Linked DNA regions of Homo sapiens: all the other regions are reported to be linked to region 1. Evidence: microRNA targets listed by miRTarBase, many of them from high-throughput screens and not tested one by one. Region 1 holds a microRNA gene; each other region holds the end of a gene's coding sequence.

Evidence for each region. The annotated mature microRNA hsa-miR-4797-3p reads UCUCAGUAAGUGGCACUCUGU and lies in region 1 at 2,951-2,971, shown strand. An mRNA with a match to its seed (bases 2 to 7 or 8) in the 3' UTR can be bound and repressed. Matches are read on the target gene's strand: a 7mer-m8 pairs with bases 2 to 8, a 7mer-A1 pairs with bases 2 to 7 and ends in A, and an 8mer does both.
Region 2: the mRNA of CCDC59 is a reported target of hsa-miR-4797-3p. The part of its 3' UTR that is shown has no 7-base or 8-base seed match.
Region 3: the mRNA of HOXC8 is a reported target of hsa-miR-4797-3p. Seed matches in the 3' UTR shown: 7mer-A1 at 2,133-2,139.
Region 4: miRTarBase lists ZNF236 as a target of hsa-miR-4797-3p. Seed matches in the 3' UTR shown: 7mer-m8 at 3,181-3,187.

The regions. Positions count from the first base shown.
Region 1 is chr3:197,292,225-197,296,858 of GRCh38, reverse strand. It overlaps MIR4797 (microRNA 4797), which reads left to right and starts at 2,911; the gene lies at 2,911-2,981. It overlaps DLG1 (discs large MAGUK scaffold protein 1), which reads left to right. Exons shown (of 25, transcript NM_001366207.1): 3 at 382-513.
Region 2 is chr12:82,349,727-82,353,726 of GRCh38, forward strand. It overlaps CCDC59 (coiled-coil domain containing 59), which reads right to left. Exons shown (of 4, transcript NM_014167.5): 4 at 2,577-3,586. The coding sequence ends at 3,425. Among named protein-coding and RNA genes, the nearest start is that of CCDC59, 6.7 kb to the right of the region's middle.
Region 3 is chr12:54,010,616-54,014,615 of GRCh38, reverse strand. HOXC8 (homeobox C8) reads right to left here. Exons shown (of 2, transcript NM_022658.4): 2 at 1,847-3,527. The coding sequence ends at 3,235. Among named protein-coding and RNA genes, the nearest start is that of HOXC8, 3.6 kb to the right of the region's middle.
Region 4 is chr18:76,967,964-76,971,963 of GRCh38, forward strand. ZNF236 (zinc finger protein 236) reads left to right here. Exons shown (of 31, transcript NM_001306089.2): 31 at 252-4,000. The coding sequence ends at 376. Among named protein-coding and RNA genes, the nearest start is that of MBP-AS1, 10 kb to the right of the region's middle.

The sequences.
Region 1 (4,634 bases):
AATTTGTATTTTGAAATGTTAAAAATTTGGATTATGATGACAAATTGTAGATAATCTGCTTTTGCATTATCAGGTAATCTGAAACTGTTGCTAATACTTTGATCTTTTACTTTGGCAAACTACCAGTACACATTTATTCCAAACTGCTCACTCTCCTCCGTTTTCTAATGTGATATATGTTTAAATTTTTCTTGTATTTCTTTAATTTTTTTTTTTATTTTTTGGTCATTCTAAGGAATATGTGTACATGAACATAGTGACATCAATTGACCTGAAGGATTTGCGGAACTATTTAGATGTCATGCAGAATTATTTGCACTAGTATGTGATACTTTTTTTGTAAATAGAGAGTTTTAATCAGGCTCTGCTTTTTCTTCTCAGATACCCAGAGAGCATTGCACCTTTTGGAGGAATATCGTTCAAAACTAAGCCAAACTGAAGACAGACAGCTCAGAAGTTCCATAGAACGGGTTATTAACATATTTCAGAGCAACCTCTTTCAGGCTTTAATAGGTGGGAATTAAAACTTCGTAACTATTATGCCAGCTAGGCTTTATGCTCCTCTCAATTCATTTATTTTAAACTTAAGAAAATGATGTACTTAATTCTCTGAGGCATTCGGTAACTTGAACATCTTCAGTGAGTTGTGTGTTTTTCATAGGCCAGTGTCCTTTCTTAAAATAACTAGTAACCAAAAAACTTTCAGGATTATTTCAGTGGCTTTTGAGAACATTGTTTCACATCTTAATAGCATTAACTATTAAAAGATGTTGCACAGATGTTTAAGGACCTAAAAGGTATGACTGAGTTACTGTGAGCTTGTTTCTGTATTTGACTGGCATGTCTCTGAAGTCATTGAAAGCGTGTGAAGGGTTCTGCTGTGTTGAAGAACATTCATTCCCTTAATGTAGATTTCTGTTTGAGCTTGGCATTCATGGAGTCAGAATTTTAGACCTGGAAAATAATCTTAGAGATGATCTTGTCTAGTAACCGTATTTTACAGGCAAGAAAATGGAAAGTTTTATTCTTAATTGTAACTTAATTTGAAGTGGTGCATTGTTTGAAAGAACTGGAAAAATAAGAGTCCTGAGTTCTTTTGCCACTAATTGAATGATATATCCCAAGTCATTTAATCTTTTCTATGCCACCATATTAGCTGTAGAATGTAGCTGTTGAAATGACAGAATGGGTTTAAAGCCTTTTTTAAGTAGATAAATCATTTTTAAAAGCATCATCTCATATTTTGTGTATAATCTCCTATGTATAAAACAAGGTGACTTGTCTGGCTCTTTTGTCCAGGTACCTCAAAAAGTTTGCAAACCACCGAACTAGAAAGTTTGTCTCTTCCAATTCTAAGAATGAAGTTTTTTTTTTTTGTTTTAGTTATCAACTATATAACATTTTAACATAAGAAGACATATACTTAATTATATTACATTTATTTCTTCAGTAACTTCCAGTCAGATATGGCCTTACATCTATCTGTTGATAGAATAATTGTTGGTGTGATTTGAAGACTACTTTCAAGTCAGTGTGTCCTGTCAGGTACATTATTGATAAATGGATGCTCTCTACGGTTTTAGAATGAAAGATTTTTGTAAAGACCACTTGATGCACCTGAACAATTTTGAAAAATGTAACATTTTAATAGACTTTTAAAAACATAAGGATACATAGCACAGTGTAATGAACTGCCTTTTAACTGTTACCCAGCTCCAGAAATTCACATTTTGCCATTTTTGTTTACATTGATGGACATTTTTTACACATTTGAATTTCTGAGGTTTAAGGTCCGAATGGATGATCAAATTGGATTCCTCTGGAAAAACAGCAAAAAGCATTTTTTAGTTATTTGTTTTCTAAATCAACATTGAGCCTAGTAATTTGGTGCAGTTACTGTTGCAAAAAAAGTATGTTTTTTCGCAACAGTATAGAGATATATATATACATATATGTATAGATAGGCAGATAGATAGACTGCAGACTTTTCTTTGTGTGATGGCTGTAACTTAAGAAAATTAAATCGTTAGTGAAATAACAGAATCTACATTTATATTTCTGTCTAGATTGGGGATGGGTTTGCTGTGTTCAGAGACATTTTTGACCTATTCTGCCTTGCCTGTTTTGAATGTGTCTATTCTTACGTACAATTGAACTTTGATAGAGTTAGCTTTCTTCTCTTTTTTTTTTTTTTTTTTTTTGAGGCAGAGTCTCACTCTGTCACCCAGGCTGGAGTGCAGTGGCGAGATCTCCGCTCACTGCAAGCTCCGCCTGCCAGGTTCACGCCATTCTCCTGCCTCAGCCTCCTGAGTAGCTGGGACCAAAGGTGCCCACCACCACGTCCGGCTAATTTTTTATTTTTTGTATTGTATTTTTAGTAAAGACGGGGTTTCACTGTGTAAGCCAGGATGGTCTCGATCTCCTGACCTCGTGATCCACCCACCTCGGCCTCCCAAAATGTTGGGATTACAGGCGTGAGCCACCGCGTCTGGCCTAGAGTTAGCTTCCTAATTACTAAGTTTATATTTGTGAATCTTCTAATTTCATTGGTTGTGAATTTACTTTGACATTTAAATTTACTTATATTTAATGTTCTATAGGATGTGGTACTATATCACATTTTGGTGTAAGACAAGTAATAGATTTTAGGAGTTTTGAAATAGATAACGTTTAATAGAGGTTCTGTGTGTTTCCATGCTATAATTGTTGATACTACGGAATAAATACATTCTCTTGTGTTTCCTGAATAACTTTTAATACTTAGTCTGAAAATGTTTAGTCTGATAAGATTTTCTTTGTATTTTGCAACTCTACCATTGTTTTGAAACAGTGTCATAAATGTACTTTAAGCTTGTAAACTGCCCTAAGCTAAACCAGTTCATTGTGTCCATAGTGTTTGCAGAAAAATCCGACTCAGAAGACAGAGTGCCACTTACTGAAAGGTTTTTTCTCTCAGTAAGTGGCACTCTGTCTTCTGAGTTGGTACCTGTGGACCACTGGATTAAAGGAGAACAGGGGTCTTGGCCACCTGAGCTGTTTGGAGTCATTGAGTGCTTAGATTTTTCACTTCCTTAATTTGGAAATCACTTGTTTAGGCCGCAGTGAGTTATCTAGTTATCTGTTTGGGGTGCCAAGTGTCTTTGGATTTTCAGTCTGCATTGATCATTTATTGATTGATTCTTTGAACTGGTAGTTTATATTGACTTTTCATGCATTTAAAAAAGTTTGAGTCTCTAGGGGTTTGGTGTCCCCCCCTGTAGTTGATACATAGATTAGGTTCCTGTACTTTTGGATTATTCAGAGGGACAAGCATGTACGTACTGTATTATATTTGTTCTAAAATACCAACTGTTAAATATTTCAATATCTGGTATATGTCATTTTTAATTGACAGTGTTTCTGTGTTCTGACACATGAAATAGTGCATTTTATAATTGATACTCGCAATGTAATATAGAAATCATTGGTCTAGTGCTGATAGATACTTGGTAGTATCTTTGAAGGATGGCTTAAAGATTTAAAAATTATTGAAAGCAGAAAAGTTTTTACTAATTTTGAATTTCAGCTGATGTATTGTTTCTTTAGAGCTAAATATTTAAAGTTGTATCTTAACAAAAGTCCATGAACTGCACATTTGTTTAAAATTTACTCCCAAAACATACCTGGTGATTATTTTTGTATAAAGGAAGATAAAGTCTGCTTAATTTCACTCTGTGATTTAGGTGAGAGCAATTTGAAAACTTGCTTTTGTATTCCAGTTTTTTGTGCTTAAGTTTGAAAATTTTTTGAGTAGACGGGATATGGTTTGATTATAATCAGAGCCCAGGTATTCAGGTCCATAGTGGTTTCAGTTCATTCATGATTCTAAGGTGTGTGGGATCTGAGATGACACTGCTAGTCCATAGAGACTTCATACCAGTCTAAACCCCTGCAGTTATTTCTTACGGGATCAGAGAACTCATCTGCTTTCCTTGTGCATGAGAAAAACTGGGGCCCAAGATTAGGCTGGCTTTAGAGACTTGAGTAAGTTGAGTCATGTGATTTGTATATTTTGTCTGCAATAAATAAGCTTATTCTAATGCAGTGTTTTATTTCTGCAGAGATTTCAGAATGAAAGTGGATTATGTAATAATACTGTCCATTTATGAGTTTAGTTACCAGTTCATTTGTTGCCACTCTATTAAAATCTAATAGTTTCACTAGCCCTTATAAAAGGACATTACCCTATCTTTATTTGTAGATACTAGTTTCAAAAGTATGACCCCTTTGCCATCTTCACCATCTTTAAATGTACAGTTCAGGAGTGTGAAATGTATTCATATTGTTGTGAAACAAATCTTCAGAACACTTTCGTCTTGCAAAACTGAAATCCTATACCGAATAAACAACTGCTCCCCTTTCCTCTCACTTCCCAGCCCCTTGTGACCAACGTGCTGCTTTCTGTTTCAGTGAATTTGATCATGTTAGAAACCTCATAGAAGTATTTGTCTTTTTGCGACTGGCTTATTTCACTCAGTGTAGAGTCCGCAAGGTTCATTCATGTTGTAGTTGTTGACAGGATTTTCTTCCTTTTTCAGGCTGAATAATATTCCGTTGTATGTATATACCGCATTTTATCTAGCCATCCATTGATG
Region 2 (4,000 bases), not on the chromosome of region 1:
AGGAACTCATGAATCAGTAGGAAGGAAGATAACCGGTGATGGCTTTAGCCTTATCAGAATGCCAGTCACATGAGCTGCACACTTAAACTAAGTTGGAAGAAATTTGTCAGCAACAAGTTAAACTTTTCACCATGCATTTAGCATGGTACTCTATCTTCTCTTTCAGAAAGTGACATCTGAAACACTGATGCTATCTTACCAAGTATAGAATTTGGAGTGGTCCAGTCCCAATCACCAAGTCAAAGGAGACCTGATCTTTTCCCAGTATGTTCAAATATCTTCAGATTCAAAATTTTCTCTTTTACACAGCATTTCAATGACTCTCAGAACAATTTAGACCTTGAGCTTTTCTAGAACTTTATATTGCAACCAAGGCACATGTCTTTAAAAGTAGCAAATACTGATACAGTCATTAACATCTAGCATAGCTATGAATATTTCTTCTTATATCATTAAATCCTTGCCACGAATAAAATTGTTTTCTGGTGTCGAGTTAGCAGCATCTGATGAGTGAGGCCTTTGCTGCTCACACATGCATATTTAATGTAGGCCAAGGTCAAGCTGCAGTAGCCTGCATGAGACCACTTGCACATGCCAGTGCCTTTGTTGATGCCAGCACCACTACAGTAGCTTGCTAAGCCTCACCTTGGGCTGGCATCTGGTGAGGACATCCATGAGGCCAGCATTTGGGTGAGCCCCACTTCCAGATTCTCTGTCTTTGCTGAAGCCAATATGTCTCCATCACCCTCACTCAAACTCTGCTTCATTGAGGCCTGCGCATATGTGCTTAAAGCCCAGTATTGCACATTGTCTCTATAGAAATTACCAATTTCTCTGGACAAAGATATCCTAAACTTTTAGGTCAAAATCCCACGTGCCTTAAGTCTTAAAGCCTCTTGCCAAAACTGCAACTAAAAGCCTACTTCACACTTACAAAGTCAAATTAATAGCCCTAATAGAAGCCTCTACAAACTACCAAGATCAAAGCTCCCTACGTATACATTAAGGTCTGAAACCAGAAACCATAAGCTATGGCCACAATTAAGCCTCTCTCTTTCTATGTTGTGCTCCTTCAAATTTTATTCCTCTTTTATTTCTTGATGTACTAACCCATATAGCACAAATTTCTATATATATTTTCCAAAAATATCCATCCCCCTTCTAACATTTATCAATATAGCCTGTTCTTCACTTATAGTATTAGAATAGCAATTAAGAGTACATGCACTCTGCTGACAGCCCAGGTCCTCCTCCCAGACATCATTTATTACTTTACCTCCCCTGGGTGGAACAAGTGGGACAAGAAGTAAAGATACCATGAGTGTTTGGATGATGGTGTCTTCTCCACATGGAAGGAAACAATAGGGAACCGATAGGAACTATTACCTCCATCAATAATAATATATTCTAACTACTTATTAGATATTTAAATAATACCAAGCTTGCTTCCCTTTGTAACTTTCCTCATGCTCTTACACTTCTAATCTTTTTAACCTCGAAGGCTTTCCTTAAATGCTATTGCACACATGAAACTTTCTCTGATTTCTTAAACCAAACAAAACCTCTTTCTTCTCTGAGGCCCTGGTCCAACATTTTTTAAGTGTGGCGAGGAGCAACCCAGCAGAATCACTGGGGTTGCCTGTTAAAACATCCATTACTAAGCCCATCTACAGTATCCAAATTCCTTAGTGTAGGGTCCTCAAACATGCCTCTTAAGAAGCCTATAGGCCAGGCACAGTGGCTCACACCTATAATCTCAGCACTTTGTACGGCCAAGGTTGAGCCATAAGGATCCCTGAGGCCAGTTCAAAACCAGCCCAGGCAAGGCTGAACTTGGCAAGACCTCATCTCTACAGAAAATGTTAGCCAGGTGTTGGCACGTACATGTAGTCCCAGCTACTCGTGAGGCTGAGCAGGATAACTTGAGCCCAGGAGTTTGAGGCTGCTGTGAGCCATGATCACACCACTGCACTGCAGCGTGGGCGGGAGACTGTCCACCACCAAGATAATAAAAAAAAAAAAAACGAAAAAGGAAAAGCTTCCTGGGTGCTTCATTGATAACACTAAAATCTTAACCTTTTGCTTTATCTGATTGTCACTGATTACTTTTTCCCCCATTATACCATTACTTGGCATTTATTCCTCTACAAGAACTTTGGAATTTTAAAGAGTAACTCCTTAATATAAGTTTTGCATAAAGTAGCTTTTAACAAAGTCGTTAAAATGAATATAATTTGACTTTCACTTGTCTCTCAAAAGGACTAGATCTCCTTCCATGTTTTGTCATGATTAAGTGTCTAGAAGTGAAAATGCACAAAAATTGTAAAGCAATTTACTGAAATAATTTATCCTCCATCATGATGTGATGTGTCTTCACCAATGTAGCCAAATTTAGGCTTTCTGGGCTGCTTACTTTAAATGCAATATAGTGCAATGCAAATTTCTAAAGCATTGCTTTTCTATGCAATGAAGATTAAGTTCAGTGTTATCTAAGCACTTTCTACTGATCTTGAAATGCAGAATAAATTAGTAGACTGAAAGAGCTCCCTAAAATCTTAATGCAATTTCAGACTGTATTTGCTATCATTTATAAAATTTTATTATTCAATATTTGGCAAGTATTATTGGTCAGCCCTTTTTGCTTACAATGACTATATATATATTTCAAGCCTTTCTCATTCTTCTGCAATTTGCAAAGCATGAGAAGCAGTTATCCCAGTGGCTTATCTCAGCTCACAAGGGTACCAACAAGGGAGACAGAGATAATGTTCTTAAAGTATAGGGTCCATAGGAACTGGAAAGCTTAATTCTTGCTGTGACACTGTGGGGTTTCCATCATTATTTAAAAGACCTTAGACTAACAAGCCATGTACATCCATTTAAGGGAATGTTTATAAATATCAGACTTTGAGTTCACTGCTTTGTGAAGGTCGCTTTGTTATATGGTGAGGGCAGTTTATTTCAGCACCCATCACCCTGTAACATGTACTTAAAATAAATAAAAAGTCCAAGAGGAGTCTTTGCCTCCCTCATCATTAAAATAAATTTTAAAACAACGTAACTGTTTACTAAATTGAAATATTTCATTGAAATGCTTCATTGATAGCTCTGATTCCTTATTTTTAAAAAATTTATTTCATATAAATCTCATATGGTACAAAAGTATTACATGCTTGGGCCTGTCTTGCAAAATAAGAGGTTCTTTCAGTTCTTCAGGCCAACCTTCCTTCAGAGGCAAATAAATAAGAAACATGTAGAACATATTTAGAAAATTTTTTACCATAATAAAAATATGTGAACATCTTATATTTAGCATAGTTTAGCAATCCAGTTTATGTCGACAAATTTAGTTCACTGCTGGGAGGCACATGTCACAGAAGAACCTAATAGGCAGCAGATATTTTAACCTGTAGGAACAAAATGTTTAACATTTTTCTTGTATTTTTTGAAGAAGGTACTCCATTTGTACATTCAAGTTTGGTTGGCCCTTTTTAGTCTTTTTGTTCAGTATTTTAAACACTTCCATTTTCTTCTTTTTGTACTGCCTTTGGGCTTCTTCTCTCTCCTGTTTTCTCCTCTCGAATTCCTAAAATTATTAACATATGTAACTTTCATTAGCAACAAACAGTAGATACAGTTCAGAAATTGTCTTGAAATAGCTATTACTAAGCAAACACTCTAAGGTTTGTCTCTTCTATTTTGCAAGATGTGCACTGTTTCTCCTAATTGAAGCAAAGTACCCTCTTTGCCTTCATATTATAATGACCCATGGTATAACAGAGAATTTTCATGATCACAAAGCCCCAGCTCTATATAAACAAAATTTTAAAAGGACATTAAATGTTTTACAGCATAATGGTCATTACTGCACTTCATCTGATATACTGTTTCCAAAGGTGACAGATGGTTGGAAAAAGCATAAAGCTGTGCTAGTTAATACTGGTCCAGTATTCCCATGAAGAAATTTTCCTGCTTTCTCCTAATCTGCCACCAGCTTAAG
Region 3 (4,000 bases), not on the chromosome of region 1:
ATGGCACATTTGGTGTGGGGAAAAGGCGGCGAGGCCCTTCGGAGCCATTTAATGCTGGGTTCATTCCGCTAGGCTACTGGGCCAGATATTTTTATTAATAGCAATCATAATTCCACGTTTAAAAACGAAACGGGACCTCAGCCATCCCTCGGAGTATGGAGGACACGCCTGTGGGAAGGCCTGAGGTCTGAGCGAAATGGCCTCTTTTCTGGCTTCCCTGGTGGGTAGCCGGTGTCTCCCACTGAGAACAGGTTACCTGGCTGGTGCCGCTGCTCACAGCAGGGACCCCAGGTTAGAGAAGATTTCCCGGAGCTCCTGCTCAAAGCTGCCCCAGCTGCCTGCAGCCTGTGCTTCCAATTCACAGCCTTTCTCGGACTGCAGGAGTCCCCCTGTGAAGGAAGCCCGACTCAATTCTCTACTCAGGCCCGATTTTCAGGCCCGGTTTGCGTGGGGACCAGTGACTGGGACCTGGGTGAAATTCCACAAAACAAGAGTTGGCCTGGGCCTAGGTCTGGGAAAATCATTGACCAGGAGCTAGACAGATGAGGGGTGGGGAGGACAGAGAGAGAGAGAGAGAGAGAGAGAGAGAGAGAGAGAGAGAGAGAGAGAGAAAGAAGAGAAGAGAAGAGAAGAGAAGAGAAGAGAAGAGAAGAGAAGAGAAGAGAAGAGAAAAAGAAAGAAAGAAAATCTGGCCTCAAAAATATTTCAGCCTTCGGGGGTCTGGTTTTTAAGACCAGAAGATCCCTCCCCTCCCTTTTCCCCTCTCCTGACTGAGTCAGAAGACTTGTATCTCTGGAATTTGGGATTATTTGACCAGAATCTTATTGGCATAAACAGAATTTTTAAGTCCAGGACTCTCCAGAGAGAAGTGAGAGACCCTTCTACCCCCTGGGTCCCTGAGCCTTCAATTCTTCATTTTGGGGAATGAAGATACCAATAAAGACGCCCTCTTACCCCGCTGTGACTGGGGTGGCAGGATGTCCACTCAGCAGGCCCATCCTCCAGGCCAATGGCCCACACTATGGGGGCTGGGTAAGCTGACCAATTGCCAAGGTGAAGTGGGGAGTGGACTTTAAACCGTCTGAACAGAAGTTGGAGTGGATGCAAGCGGGCTGAATGACAGTGATGACAATCTTCCTGTGCAGAGGATTGAATGTGAATTTCAGGATGTGGGCTCAGGCTGGTTGCCTACGAGCTCACTTACTTTCCCCTTCCTTTCTCCTCTCCTTCAGGCTTAAGCTTCCTCACCCTCCATTCTTAGCATCCCCCATCTTCAGGCAAGCCCTGCAGACAGGCCAGCCAGTTGCCCTGAGCCTCACACATCCCCACCCGGTTCATTATTCTAGTGCTGGGTGCTGGGTGCTAAGGTCTGGCCACAAGGGGCATGCGGAGATCAGAAGGAATCCCACTATCTCATCCTCAGCCCCAGACCCTGGAAGAAAAAGTCATAGTTGCATAGGGCAGATTCTTTGTCTGGGCCCAGCCCAAGGCTGAGGAGGAGGAGGGTGGATGAGTGAGGAAATCTTTCTTCCCATTGGGATCCTGGCGTCTGGAAACCCACTTTGTTTGGAGCCAAGATTCCCCCAAGGGCATACCTATAGACTCCTTACTCTCTCAACCAATGGACTGCTCCTTTTCTTCCTCCTCTCAACCCCTCACCCCTTTCACCTGCCCTCCCAGGCCAGCATGCTTTCTCAATTCCCAGGCTTCTCTCCACGTGAGTTTCTGAACCCCAAAGCCAGAGCAGTGAAGCAGACCTTTTCCAGAGAGTTGGACAGGGGGATAAGGAGAGAGAAGGTAGAGAATAGGGAAGAGCTGTGGAGAAAAAGCAAGTCATTCCAGCTTCTATTATTTTTCTTCTTCTTTTTATTATTATGACTCACGTATACAATACAAAGTACTTGGACCAGGAACAGGGCTGTCGGGACACAAAATCTACATTCATAGCTGGACATAAAGACAAATGACAAAAAATTATTATTATAGATATATTTTTAACATTTTTTTCTTTCGAGCACATTGCATAAACAGAGAATTCAAGACAGAGTTAACTATACATTCAGTGCAATTTAGTTCTACTCTACTGGGGTTAGAAGCACAATAAAAGCGCACAGGACCGGCGGGCTAGGCAGTCTCAGTTGTTGGGTTTTCTTAGTGAAATAAGCAGCAACAAACGACAACAAAACCGCATTACAAATACTCTCAAAGCAGGATTTCTTTCTATAGGTAGTGATAAAATACGCTGGAGGTTTCTTTCTTTCTTTTTTTTTTTTTTGATTTTTATTTTTTTCTCTTTTTTTCTCCTATAGCAGGATTTTAAAATTTTTCTCTTTTTCTTTTTCAAGATTATTGCAGGTTCCCTTTAGGTAGTATGTTAAAGATTTATTATTATTATTTTCGTGATTATGGTGATTTCTGAGCACTAACACTAATGCAGCTCAGAGGAAGGCGGGCCCAACAGAATAGAAATCAAACAGCGAAGGAGAGGAAGGCATGGGCCCGAGTGACCATGGGATGGTTAGGTAGGATTTTAGAGGCGACTGCAGGCTCCTATCTACCCTTCTGGAAATGGGGGGAGGGGAAAGACCCACATCTCCTTCAGGTTTCCATCAGGTTCCTAGAGAAAGTCAAGGGGGTTTTTCTAAGCAGGGAGCCCTGGGGAGGGGGAGGGGGAGGGGGAGGGGATATTCCTTGCTTTTTTCCTTATTTCTTTACATTTGTCTTCCTTTCCTTTCTTCATTTTTTTCTGTCCTTTCCTTTTTAGAAAAAGTACATCTAGTACACTAGCCTTAGCATAAAAACAAAACCACAAGTCCTTTTCTGCATTTCGAGGGGGCTCCCCTCTAAAATAAATACCAGAGAAGCAGGGAGGTGGGAGTGTGGTGAGAGACAGACCGAGGAGCACGGAGGCCAGGTCTCAGACCTTAAAATCCAGGAAGGACTCAGAAGGGTGGGGGCAGGGACAAGTGTGTGTGGGGCAAGGAGTGAGACAGAGAGTCCGAACTTTTCACTGTTTCTCCGTCTCCCCCCTCCAGCCCCCAAACAAATAAAGAGTGGGGGAAGTCCAAAGGTAATAAAACCAGAGCTGCAAGTATCTGACAGGTAGTTAGAGTTGTGAGTGTCATTCTATTCTCTATAAAAGCAAATGACAGTCGTAAACTTCTCAATTTATCTGCTACCATAAAACGAAACTTCAAGGGAGTTGCTAAGGGGGGGGGGGTCTTTCTTTTTTGCTTAGTCCTTGTTTTCTTCCTTTTCCTCCTCTTCTTTCTCCTCTTCCTCATTTCCTTCTTCCTCCACCTTCTCCTCATCTCGGGCTCCCGGCAGTTTATCCTTGTTGTTCTCCTTTTTCCACTTCATCCTTCGGTTCTGGAACCAGATCTTCACTTGTCTCTCGGTCAGTCCCAGGGCATGAGAGACTTCAATCCGACGTTTTCGTGTCAAATAAGGATTAAAGAGAAACTCCTTTTCTAGTTCCAAGGTCTGATACCGGCTGTAAGTTTGCCGTCCACTGCGCCTCCCCGGAGCTGGACAGAAGAAAACCCCAGTCTGGTTACGTTTGGATGGGGGCTTGGTTTTCCTTTGCCACTCTTCCTACTCTAAACTCCCCTCTCTGATCTCCTCAGTTCGCCTCCCCTCTATGGAAAAGGCTAGAGCAGAAGGCAGACAAGGGCAGAAAAGTTGGGGGATTGTTTTTGTTTGGCTTCACCTTGGGAGGTGGGGTGGGGGTGGGGGCTAGGGTCTGTTTGGAAACTGGGGCCTTTCAGGGGCTGGGGAGCCCTGTAGAATCCCCCCCACCAGGCCTGTAATCCTAGGAACTGGCCTTTGCAGCTTTGTTTACAAGTGCAGCAGGGCATTTAGTGAGCGAGGCTGGGGACAGACTGTTTCCAAAAGAAAGGAAAAAAAGCTGGGGGTAAAGAAGAGGGGCTCTGCCCACTGCCCTCTCCTTGTCTCTCTCTGCCTAATGCTTTTCCAATAAGAAAAATAATTGATCTGCTGG
Region 4 (4,000 bases), not on the chromosome of region 1:
ATGTAGCTGTCATAGGAGTGCACTCATATCACCAGTGCTGTGTGTGCGTTCATACTCCTAACAGTAACTACTGTCCTGCCGGCAGAGGTGTTTCACCTGCAGCTCAAATTACTCTTTTTTCACTGGAATGAAAAGCAAATTACTTTAGAAATTCCTTGTCTCTTTCTACCAGAAAGTCTTTATTTAAATAGGAATCATTTTGTGCTCTGGAAGGTCTGAGGCTGCTTGTGTTTTCTTTGTCTGCATAACAGGAGCTCTGCAGGAGTCTGCAGGTCACCCGGAGCAGGACGGGGAGGAGCTGAGCCGGACCCTCCACCTGGAGGAGGTGGTGCAGGAGGCCGCCGGCGAGTGGCAGGCCCTCACCCACGTCTTCTGATGCGAGTTGGAAGTACACCTTTAAGAATGTTTCTGAAGTTACGTTTTGTGAAGAGCAAAGCACTTGGAATCTCCGTTTTAAAGCTTCAAGTGTTAAAAATGCTACAATAGTTTTTTATCTATAAAATTATCTAAAGAATCATTGTCTTTCAGAGACTCATAGGAAAAAAAAACTAGGAAAAGTGTCACCGCATTGTTCTCTTTTGTCTACAAATCACTGAACTCAGGTACTACTGTAGGCAGTTTCCTCCTCAGTCTCCTCCGTGGCTAGTGTGTCTAGTTCACGAAGCAATTAACTGGGTCTTACTATCATTGTAGTGTGATTTCTTTGTATTAGCAAAGACAAAAACGCTAACATTGAAAAAGTATGTCAGATTTTCCTTCATGTTTCTGGTTATAAGAAGCATAGCTTACAAAGCAAGCGTAAGATTGAGGCATGAAGTTCAGAAAAAAAAGTGTTACAACACACAGGGAAGTTTTTTCCACTCTTTTCTCTGTGCATTTTGAAAATTAGTCAAAATGGACTCTTTTCAGTCTACCATAAGTTAATATAACTGATACCTTGAGAGATGGCTGGACCAATTCTCTCCATGACAAATGTTTAATCATTAGTTACAAGAATGCAGTATCTGGGGCGTCAACATGGGGACTCGAGTAAACCTGACCCACCAATAAGGATTCAGCTGTCCACACGGGCTGGCGACACACTTACCGCATCAATCTGTGTTCAGGTCCAGGGTTACATAATTGCAGAAGCACAAGCCATACATCGCAGGTAGGAAACCACAGAACCGTCTGCAAGGAGCAAGCAACGGTGGCCCTGTCCACCCCAGCAAATAAGAAGCATATCTGTAGCTTAAGGCCACGAATCCGTAAAAACCCCATGACTTTCTCTTCGTGCATAAACAGATGTATTTTTGATTTCAGGGAATTCTTTAGTATCGTCAATGGTGCCACATAAAACATGTCCCAAACCAAATCCCACCCGTGCTGGGCAGAGTGCGTGCACGCCATTCCTACAGCATTCCAAAGATGGAAGGTTCTTTACTTCATGTTAATTTTTCCTTTGAAATTATTTATATGTTCTATATATAAATACATATGTACATAGATATATGGGCCTCTGTGTGGCTGAACAGTATATTTTGTAAATATAAGTACTAGTCCTAATTGCAGAAAGAGCGTCAGTTTCACCTCCCCACGAGCACTTCAGATCAGTATTGTATTCATTTTATTCATAAATGGATATCTTTTTCATTGTCATATAAAGCTGGGTTTTATTTTTTTTTCCTGAAAAATAATTGCCTTTATTTTCTCTCGTTGCCTCCTTGGTTTCAGAAGAGAGTAGTTTTATTATAAATATTGTATGGACTTTGTATATTAAGAGAGGAGCTCATTTCAGATTCCTAAAGAAATAGACATTTTACTGTTATTTTGAAAGGGCATCTTTTGATTTTTTTGTTGTTGTTGTTCACTTTTGGCATATGTATATAAGTAATATTGACGGTGATATGAAAACTTTTGTTATGTGAAGATATTTAAGTCAGAAAATTGTTAAATAATATTACTTCTTTTCCAAACTGCTTTGTGTATTGTATATTTTTTTAAGAAAAAGAAAAGCCTTATTTGACTTATGCTTGTGATACTGGACTTCTTACCAATCCGGAGGTTTCCTTCCTTGAATGTCAGTGTGTAAACCTGGCTGTAGCCGCATATGCAGAATAACTGTAATTGTGCTAGAGTTTTAAAGGTTCTGCTTTTAATGCACTTTTTATTTTATAATTTTGTATTGAAATATTTTAGAAATGTTGATTAATTTTGGTGAAAAAATATCCCCAAAGTGGAAATTATTGGAATTTTAAACTTTTGTTCTTGCTGGGTTATTTATTTTGATTTTAGCATTAAATGTCATCTCAGGACATCTCTAAAAGGGGTTGTTTAATTCCTAATTGTATAGAAAGCTAGTTTGGTGAATTGTATTGGTTAATTGACTGTTTAAGGCCTTAACAGGTGAATCTAGAGCCTACTTTTATTTTGGTTAAAGAAAAAGAAAATATCAATAATTCAATTTTGTGTCTTTTCTCAATTTATTAGCAAACACAAGACATTTTATGTATTATTTCGATTTACTTCCTAATTATAAAAGCTGCTTTTTTGCAGAACATTCCTTGAAAATATAAGGTTTTGAAAAGACATAATTTTACTTGAATCTTTGTGGGGTACAGGTTGATCTTTATATTTTACTGGTTGTTTTAAAAATTCTAGAAAAGAGATTTCTAGGCCTCATGTATAACCAGGGTTTTGAGGATAAAGAACTGTATTTTTAGAACTATCTCATCATAGCATATCTGCTTTGGAATAACTATAAATAAAAGATGAAGTTAGGAAATGTGATTAATTTTTTTCGTTTGAAAATATTTAAGATAAAACAGTTTGGCATGTAAATTAATTTCAAGTTCAGATATTTTTAAGAGAAAACTTTAGTGGTATTTTCCTTTACCTCTGTGAAGTTCAGAGGCGTTTACCCCTGCAGTGTCCACTGGAAAGGCTTCAGACTTTCAAAATCAGGGCATGGCTCCGCGACAGCGAGCCGTGGGCGTCAGCACAGTGCCCTGTGCATGTGTCAGAACTGTTCCTGTTCCCTTTCATTTGCTGCTTTATTCAACGGCACCCAGTCATTGAGGAACCTTTTGAAAGTTCCTAAGTGTTTTGATCCTGCTTGTGTGCTCAAGTAACCATGAAGCACTGAAGCTGAAAGAATGAATTGCCTTTGCAAAGATACCAAACGTGAAGGTGGGGTGCAGGTACTGAGGAAGCAGGAGGCATGTAGCATGTGTGGAGTCCCACCTGCTAGATAATGCCCAAGCGGCTGCGTTTCCATAGAATGGCAATAGATGAAAATGAAGACATGTTTTCAAACATGCAGATTGAAATGCTACCCCACCCCCATCAAGCTCTACTTTTTCCCCTTTGAAAAACTTGAGGCACTTAGAAAGTATCTAAATAGAGGAAATGCTATGACATGGCATCTGACAGCTTGCAGCCAGGTCAGTGGGAGGCTCATCAAATGCCACTCTCCTCTTCCTGACAGTGTTCTGCTGGTGGGACATGAACATCAGTGCTTGTCTGGCACTTAACTAGGGGATGTTTCCTTCGTGCATATTTTCTACTCCCCTGTTGTAATATTTTAAGGAAACTTGATCTTTGAAATTATAGCTAGTGTTCTGTGTCTTCCTTTGAACTCATATCACATTTATTACAAGAGACGCATGTGTTAGCACAGCTACACAATTTTTAGAAGTAGAAGTGGATTTCTTGTCTTGCTGTGGGTTTTCCTCATTTTAGAAGAATATTTGTAACTCATTAAGATACACATTTTAACATGAAATGACCATCACACAGATTTATGTTTGGAAATATTCAAGATAAAATAGTTTGGCATGTAAATCAATTTCAAGATTTATGTACATAAGATTTTTAAAGGAAATAGGTAAGATATATAGAACTGCTTTCTAGTGTATATTAAGGCTATCTCATGCCTGCTTCTTACATTTTTTTCTGAAGCTTATTTCAGAATTAATACCGTGCCCTTCCCTGACTAAAAAAAGTTAATCCAAGGATTGAT